Linked DNA regions of Homo sapiens: all the other regions are linked to region 1. The links come from fine-mapping of genetic effects on gene expression. A gene starts in region 1. Each other region holds a variant in brackets. All regions are shown on one strand. Distances are from middle to middle.

The links. PIP is the estimated chance that this variant, and not a neighbour inherited with it, causes the effect.
Region 2: its variant is the best candidate, but not a certain one, in a credible set for the expression of ALDH9A1 in whole blood (TOPMed, PIP 0.73).
Region 3: its variant is the best candidate, but not a certain one, in a credible set for the expression of ALDH9A1 in whole blood (TOPMed, PIP 0.64).

The regions. Positions count from the first base shown.
Region 1 is chr1:165,696,941-165,699,712 of GRCh38, forward strand. ALDH9A1 (aldehyde dehydrogenase 9 family member A1) reads right to left here and starts at 1,622. Exons shown (of 11, transcript NM_000696.4): 1 at 1,438-1,622. The coding sequence starts at 1,618. It also overlaps the pseudogene CA14P1. RefSeq lists enhancers at 1,358-1,587, 1,431-2,013, 1,878-2,057 and a silencer at 1,618-1,807.
Region 2 is chr1:165,784,599-165,787,370 of GRCh38, forward strand. No RefSeq gene overlaps it. Among named protein-coding and RNA genes, the nearest start is that of TMCO1-AS1, 17 kb to the left of the region's middle. The variant T/C (reference allele first, on the strand shown) is at 1,185.
Region 3 is chr1:165,580,671-165,583,442 of GRCh38, forward strand. LRRC52-AS1 (LRRC52 antisense RNA 1) reads right to left here and starts at 1,485. Exons shown (of 7, transcript NR_026744.2): 1 at 685-1,485. It also overlaps the pseudogene RPS2P10. The variant C/T (reference allele first, on the strand shown) is at 1,496.

The sequences.
Region 1 (2,772 bases):
GCCTTCTGGCTCTGCCAAGTCACTGCTCTGTGGTTTAGTGTGGATGGTCAAATACTAAATTCTCCAGTCCCCTGCAAATCAGTTTTATTGCTCTGGCTACATTTTACACAAAATATTTACATTTTTCTCCCCACATATATTCCATAAAACCCAGCAAAATAAACACAACACAAAACCAAAACAAAAAGCCCCTTCTTCCTTATCTCTGTGACCTTCAGAGTTCCCAGAGTAAATCCAGTGCCTAGCACAGTGCTTAGCACACATTAAGCACTGGATTAAAAAGTTTTATTTCAGCAAGATGAATAAATTGTGGAGAGCTCACGTAGACCATGGTGACTATGGTTACCAATACTGCATCATATACTTGAAATTTGCTAAAAGAATAGATCTTAAATATTTCACTATCCAAAAAAAGCCATTAACTATGCAGAAGCAATGGATAATTAGATTGACCGTGGTAACCATTTTGCAAGGTATACATACATTACAACACGTTTTACACCTTAAGTATATACAATTTTTATTTGTTAATTATACTTCAATAAAGCTGGGGAAGAAAGTACTGAATAAAGGTGGGGTTTTTTCCTTTCCCAATTCTGATTAATGTGCAGAAATATTTTAATATTAGAATGTGGAGACAAAGTCCTCATTCGTAGTCATTAGAAACTATCTGTGAGCGTTCCTTCATTCCCAGCACAAATGATTATCTTCCCCACAACCCCGCCCCGTTCTTTTAGAATTCCTCTCCTATGCACACATTTGAAGACAATAATACATCAGTCCTGGTTTTAAAAGGGGGAACAGTTGGCTGGGCTTGGTGGCTCACGGCTGTAATCCCAGCACTTTGGGAGGCTGAGGCGGGAGGATCACCTAAGCTCAGGAGTTCGAGACCAGCCTGAGTAACATGCTGAAAACCCGTCTCTACTAAAAATACAAAAATTAGCCGGACATGGTGGTGGGAGCCTGTAATCCCAGCTACCAGGGAGGCTGAGGCGGGAGAAGCACTTGAGCCCGTAAGGTAGAGGGCGCAGTGAGCTCTGAGATGGTGCCCCTGCACTCCAGCCTGGGCGACAGAGTGAGACCCTGTCTCAAAACAAACAAAAAACAAACAAACAAACAAAACAAACAAAAAAGGAAGTTAACAGAGGCACGACTTCCCCCACCAGTACTTTGCGAACTCTGTTCTGGCCCGGGTAAAACAACTCACGATCCTACCACGCAACTCATCAGCTTTGCTTTTCCTCCCTACCCATCCCTGCCCGGAGGCACTCGCGTTGCCCCAGAATCGCTAGTTGCCTACACACACAACCTTAGACTCTCCACTGTCACTGTCTTGTGCTCAAGTCAACGCTGCAGAACACAGGAAACGGGGGCTGGCCGGGAAATCCGCGCATCCGGCCCCAGGGCGCCCCAGCCTCCCCGGCTCGTTGCAGTTACCGGTTGCTGGCTCGAAAGCTTTCTCGGTACCGGAGGCGTCCGCCGGCTCCACGCGGGCCCCGCCGCGGTAATTGAGCGGCTGCGACACGACGAAGGTGCCAGTGCTCATGGCGGCGACAGGAGAGGGCCGAAGACTGCGAAGAAGCGGGGAGAGCGCGGCCAGGCCTGCTCGGAGAAACATGAGTGGCGGACGCAGCTCCGCGGCAGAGGCTGACGGGCCGCGGGAGGGGCGGGGCCGCGGGAGGGGCGGGGCCGCGGGATCGGTTCTAGGAGATTTTAGGGGCAGTCACTCGATTCCTCTGCGGTCCAGGCCAGGCCCTCCCCTCGCCAGGAGGGTGGAGCAAGACACCACATTCTCCCCACCACCCCGCCATACCCCACACAGTCTCCAGGCGGGAAGAGGACTTCCTTCTTCGTGATCAATATTTGCGTAGCACTTTGCAAGTGTTTTCGGGTTCATCATTGCATGTAAGCATCCTAGGATCCCATTCTTAATCCTATCGCCTGAAGAAGGCAGAGGATTGGAGTGCCAAGAGTCTTTGGTGGTTACTTCACTGCTAAACCACCGTTTCTGTAATTGTATAATGCTTTTTAAAGGGTGACAGTAAAAAGCAAGGGGACTGTGAACGAGATAGATGATATTGTGATCTGAAACTGCTTTTTAAATTCTTAAAGAGAGACTGGGCGCTGTGGCTCTCACCAAGGCTGGAGGATCGCTTGAGCCCAGGAGTTTGCGGGCAACAGAGAGAGATCCCGTGTCTATAAAAAAATAAAATAAAAATAATAAAAATTGGGCCGGGCGCGGTGGCTCACGCCTGTAATCCTAGCACTTTGGGAGGCCAAGGCGGGCAGATCACCTGAGGTCAGGAGTTCGAGACCAGCCTGACCAAAATGGTAAAACCCCGTCTCTACTAAAAATACAAAAATTAGCTGGGTGTGGTGGCGGGCGCCTGTAATCCCAGCTACTTGGGAGGCTGAGGTGGGAAAATCGCTTGAACCCGGGAGACGGGTTGCAGTGAGCCGAGACTATGCCATTGCACTCCAGTCTGGGTGACAAGAGTGAAACTCAGAAAAAAAAAAAATTATCCAGGTGTGGTGGCACACGCCTGTGGCCCCAGGTACTTGGGCGGCTAAGGTGGGAGGATCCCCTGAGCCCCGGGGGTCCAAGCTTGCAGTGAGCTATAATCGTGCCACTGCACTCAGGCCTGGGCAACAGAGCGAGACCCTGTCTCAAAATAAATAAATTCTGAAGGAGCAATGTAAATGCTATTAATGACAAATATTGATAGAAACAGAAGCCTAACATACAGAATACGAAGAGCAAAGGCCACAGGA
Region 2 (2,772 bases), 88 kb after region 1:
GATACAGATTTATTTTATTTTATTTTATTTTATTTTTTTGAGATGGTATCTCACTCTGTTGCCCAGGTTGGAGTGCAGTGGTGTAATCTCAGCTCACTGCAACCTCCACTTCCTAGGTTCAAACTATTGTCCCACCTCAGCTTCCCGAGTAGCTGGGATTACAGGCATGCGCCACCATATCCAGCTAGTTTTTGTATTTTTAGTGGAGATGGGGTTTCACCATGTTGGCCAGGCTGGTCATGAACTGCCGACCTCTGATGATCTGCCCACCTCGGCCTCCCAAAATGTTGGGATTACAGGTGTGAGCCACTGCGCCCAGCCTAGATACAGAATTTCAGTTGAAGAAGATAAGTTCTAGAGATGGATGGTGGTAATGGTTGTACAGCAGTGTGCATGTACTGAATGTCTCTGAACTATATACTTAAAAATGTTTAAAATGGTAAACCTGATATATATATGTTAAAGAAATGTTTAAAGTTGGCCCATATCTGGAGGATACAGATCATCAGAATATCTTAATCATTGCTGGTGGGAGTGTAAATTGGTATAGCGCTTTTGGAACAATTTGGCGTTATCCTGTAAAGATAAACATTTCCATGCCCTTTGACCTGCCATTTTGCTCCTAGGCATATACATAAAAGAAACTTTGTTTTTTTTTTTGAGACAGAGTTTGCTCTGTTGTCCAGGCTCAAGTAAAGTGGCACAATCACAGCTCACTGCATCCTTGATCTTCTGGCCTCCAGCTATCCTCCCACTTCACCCTGCTAGTAGCTGGGACTACAGGTGCATGCCACCATGCCCAGCAAATTTTTTTTTGTTTTTTTTTGGTAGAGGCAGGGTTTCACTATTGTATTAGTTCATTTTTACGCTGCTGATAAAAACATAACCGAAACTAAAACCAAAAAGAGGTTTAATTGGACTTACAGTTCCACGTGGCTGGGGAGGCCTCAGAATCTTGGTGGGAGGCAAAAAGCACTTCTTTTTTTTTTTTTTTTTTTTTTTTTTGAGACGGAGTCTCACTCTGTCACCAGGCTGGAGTGCAGTGGCGTGATCTCGGCTCACTGCAACCTCTGCCTCCTGGGTTCAAGTGATTCTTCTGCCTCAACCTTCCAAGTAGCTGGGACAACAGGCGCACGCCATCATGCCCAACTAATTTTTGTATTTTTAGTAGAGATGGGGTTTCA[T/C]CATGATGGCCAGGCTGGTCTCCATCTCCTGACCTTGTGATCTGCCCACCTTGGCCTCCCAAAGTGCTGGGATTACAGGCCTGAGCCACCAGGCCTGGTCAAAGGCATTTCTTAATGGCAGTGGCAAGAGATAAATGAGGAAGAAGTAAAAGCGGAAACACCTGATAAAACCATCAGATCTCGTGAGATTTACTATCACGAGAATAGCACAGAAAAGACCAGCCCCCATGATTCAGTTACCTCCCCTTGGGTCCCTCCCACGACACGGGGGAATTCTGGGAGATACAATTCAAGTTGAGATTTGGGTGGGGACACAGCCAAACCATATCAACTATCTTGTCCAAGCTGGTCTTGAACTCCTGGGCTCAAGCGATCATCCTGCCTCAGCCTCCCAAAGTGCTGGGATTATAGGAATAAGCCACTGCCCCCAGTTCAAAAAAACTTTTTAACGAGTATCAGGTCATGCATACAAGAGTGTTCATGTGAGCACTCTTTTTAATACCAAAACCTGAAAACAACCCAAATGCCCATTAACAGGCAAGGGAATAGACAAATTAATTAGAAGCTCCTGGAGGACAGGGACCACCTCTACAAAAAATAAAAAATCAGTACCTTCCCCATCTCACACAGTGTCCCAGGACCCTGCAGGGCAGTGGAGGTGCACCCATAAATAAATAAGGATATATTTATATCCACTCCAAGTGAATGTACCATAATTATATGCCATAATGTGGATTAATCCTAGCAATATAGTATTAAGTGAAAAGCATATGTCCTTAAAGATTACATATAAAGTTAATAACATCTAAACACTCCCTCCCCCCAAAAAAACCCCACTCTTTTTGAATATATTTACATGTGACATTAAAAGGGAAAACAGAATGATTTCAGTAGTGTTACCTTGGAATGGGGAAGAGGCTGGGTGATACAACTGAAGATCAAACAGGTGAATATGAATGGAAATTCATTTCCTAGTTTTCATGTTGGTGATAATGTCAAGTGTATTTGTTGTATTATTTTAAATGAATGAATGAATGAATGAAGGATTGAGGGTCTTGAATGCACCAACAATGAGAATGTGTCATGAGTCGAGAATAATGATGTATCTAATTCTATGCATCTGTGCATCTGAAGGGGCCTTAGAAAATGCATTCTGTATCTGTTTGATATAAATAAGGGGAAGATGGTGGGGGGGGGAGTGATGTTTTAAATTACTCAGCATCAAATAAAATGGATACTCTGGAAAAATGTGTCACATTTCTCCTGTGGTTTCTAGTACCCTCTGACCAATTGCCACTTTTGCCTGGGCATTTAAGCATCCCAATTTTAGGAGACTGGTGATAGTGGAAAGTCAGTGAAACATCTTAAGCTTGCATAAGAATTTTGCAAAACAAGCAGTGTTTCTTTTTTAAAAAAAAAATTAGTCTGGAAGCCTTATATCAGATAGATTCATTTGGGAGAGAGATCACATTCAGGGAAACCAACTATTAGGCTGTCACTATAACACAATTTTTAGTGAGGAATCCCTTGACCAAGTAAGTAGTATCAGCAGAAATTAAGAAGAAAGAGCAAATCCAAGAGCATTGGT
Region 3 (2,772 bases), 120 kb before region 1:
CAGACTCCAATGGAAAGCCCAGTTCTCCTTCTTCCTAGCAGAGACTTTAGGGAAATTACTTAAACCCACTGAACGTCAGGGTCCTCATCTGTAAAATCCTCATAGGATGGTTGGGAGGGTGATCAGGTAGGAACCATGGCTTTCTCTAAGCTGCCTTTTATTTGCTGACTTTTGAGAGGGGACGTCTTACTCAGGCACAGTCACATGTGCCTGTAGCCCTAGCTACTTTGGAGGCCAAGGCAGGAGGATAGTTTGAGTCCAGGAGTTCAAGACTGCAGTGTGCTGTAACTGTGCCTATGAATAGCCACTGCTTAGGCAACACAGTGAAACCCCATCTCTAAAAGAAAAAAAAAAAAAGACCAGACATCTTAGAAAGATTCTTCAAATCCTAACCCTAGTTAGACATTAGACATTGAATGCCTCTCCTAGACTTGACTAATGGAGAAAAAATGCCTTTAAGTGTTTCATCTGTTTCATCTTACTCATTCCTCAGAACATTCTGCTGACATCAACAGCCTCCAGGCCTTTGCACATGCATGTCTTTCTTTATGAAATACACACACACATGCACACATGTCTCTACACCCTGCTTATTCTATAAATCCATATTCATCCTTCAACTTCTTGCTCAAGTATCACTTCTATTTTAAAATTTCCCAGACACCACAGCCTGCCCCAACTCACCCATTCTCACTGCAGTGACGGCTCCCAGAACCTGAACAAACCACAAGTCTGATCTTGCCGCACTGTGATGACTGATCTTCTGGTTTCTCCCCAACAACCATGGGTTCCCCAAAAAGCAATACTTTGTAACCCTAGCACTTGCTATCATGCCTAATGTCTAGCAAGTACGCACAATTTGTTGCGTTAATATATTCCACATGTAGCTTCTTCTCCGAGAAAACACCAAATGGCGGATGACGCCGGCGCAGCCGGCATTGGGTTGCGGGGGGAGTCCCGGAGGCCCCGGGGCCCTGGGATGGGGAACCATGGTGGCTTCCGTGGAGGTTTCGGCAGTGGCATCCGAGGCCGGGGTCACTGCCGTGGACCAGGCTGGGGCCGAAGCCACGGAGCTCGCGGAGGCAAGGCCAAGGATAAGGAGTGGATGCCCGTCAGCAAGCTGGGCTGCCTGGTCAAGCACATGAAGATCACTTCCCTGGAGGAGATCTGTCTCTTCTCCCTGCCCATCACGGAATCTGAGATCATTGATTTTTTCCTGGGGGGCCTCTCTCGAGGCCTAGGTTTTGAAGATTATGCCGGTGCAGAAGCAGACCGGAGCCGGCCAGCGAACCAGGTTCAAGGCGTTTGTGGCCATTGCGGGCTACAACGGTCACGTCGGTCTGGGTGTTAAGTGCTCCAAGGAGGTGGCCACTGCCATCCACAGGGCCATCATCCTGGCCTAGCTCTCCATTGTCCCCATGCGCAGAGGTTACTAGGGGAACAAGATCGGCAAGCCCTACACCATCCGTTGCAAGGTGACGGGCTGCTGCGGCTC[C/T]GTGCTCGTGCGCCTCATCCGCGTGCCCAGAGGCACCGGTATCGTCTCGGCGCCTGTGCCCAAGAAGTTGCTCATGATGGCTGGTATCGATGACTGCTACACCTCAGCCAGGGGCTGCACTGCCACTCTGAGCAACTTCGCCAAGGCCACCTTTGATGCCATCTCTAAGACCTACAGCTACCTGACCCCTGACCTCTGGAGGACGGCTGTATTCACCAAGTGTCCCTATCAAGAATTCACTGACCACCTCGCCAAGACCCACACCAGAGTCTCCGTGCAGAGGACCCAGGCTCCAGCTGTAGCTACAACATAGGGTTTTTATACAAGAAAAAGAAAGTTAATTAAGCCTGTAAAATATACATACATATATGTGTGTGTATATATACATATTATATATGTATATATGTGTGTGTATATACATTATATATATGTATATATGTGTGTATATATACATATATACGTATATATGTGTGTATATATACATATATACGTATATATGTGTGTATATATACATATATACGTATATGTGTCTATATACATATATACGTATATGTGTGTGTATACATATATACGTATGTATGTGTGTATACATATATACGTATGTGTGTGTATACATATATACGTATGTATGTGTGTATACATCTATACGTATGTATGTGTGTGTATACATCTATACGTATGTATGTGTGTATACATATATACGTGTATACGTATACACATATGTATATGTGTATACATATACACATATATGTGTATGTATGTGTATACATATACACATATATGTGTATGTATGTGTATACATATACACATATATGTGTATGTATGTGTATACATATACACATATATGTGTATGTATGTGTATACATATACACATATATGTGTATGTATGTGTATACATATACACATATATGTGTATGTATGTGTATACATATACACATATATGTGTATGTATGTGTATACATATACACATATATGTGTATGTATGTGTATATGTATGTATATATACACATATACATACATGCATGTATATATGTATGTATATGTATACATATATACATACATTGTATATACGTATACATATACACACATATATGTATATACGTATACATATACACACATATATGTATATACGTATACATATACACACATACATACATATATACACATACATACATATATACACATACATACATACATATATGTATATGTGTATATATACATATATGTGTATATATTCCAACTGTAAAATATACATATATGTGTGTATATATATATTC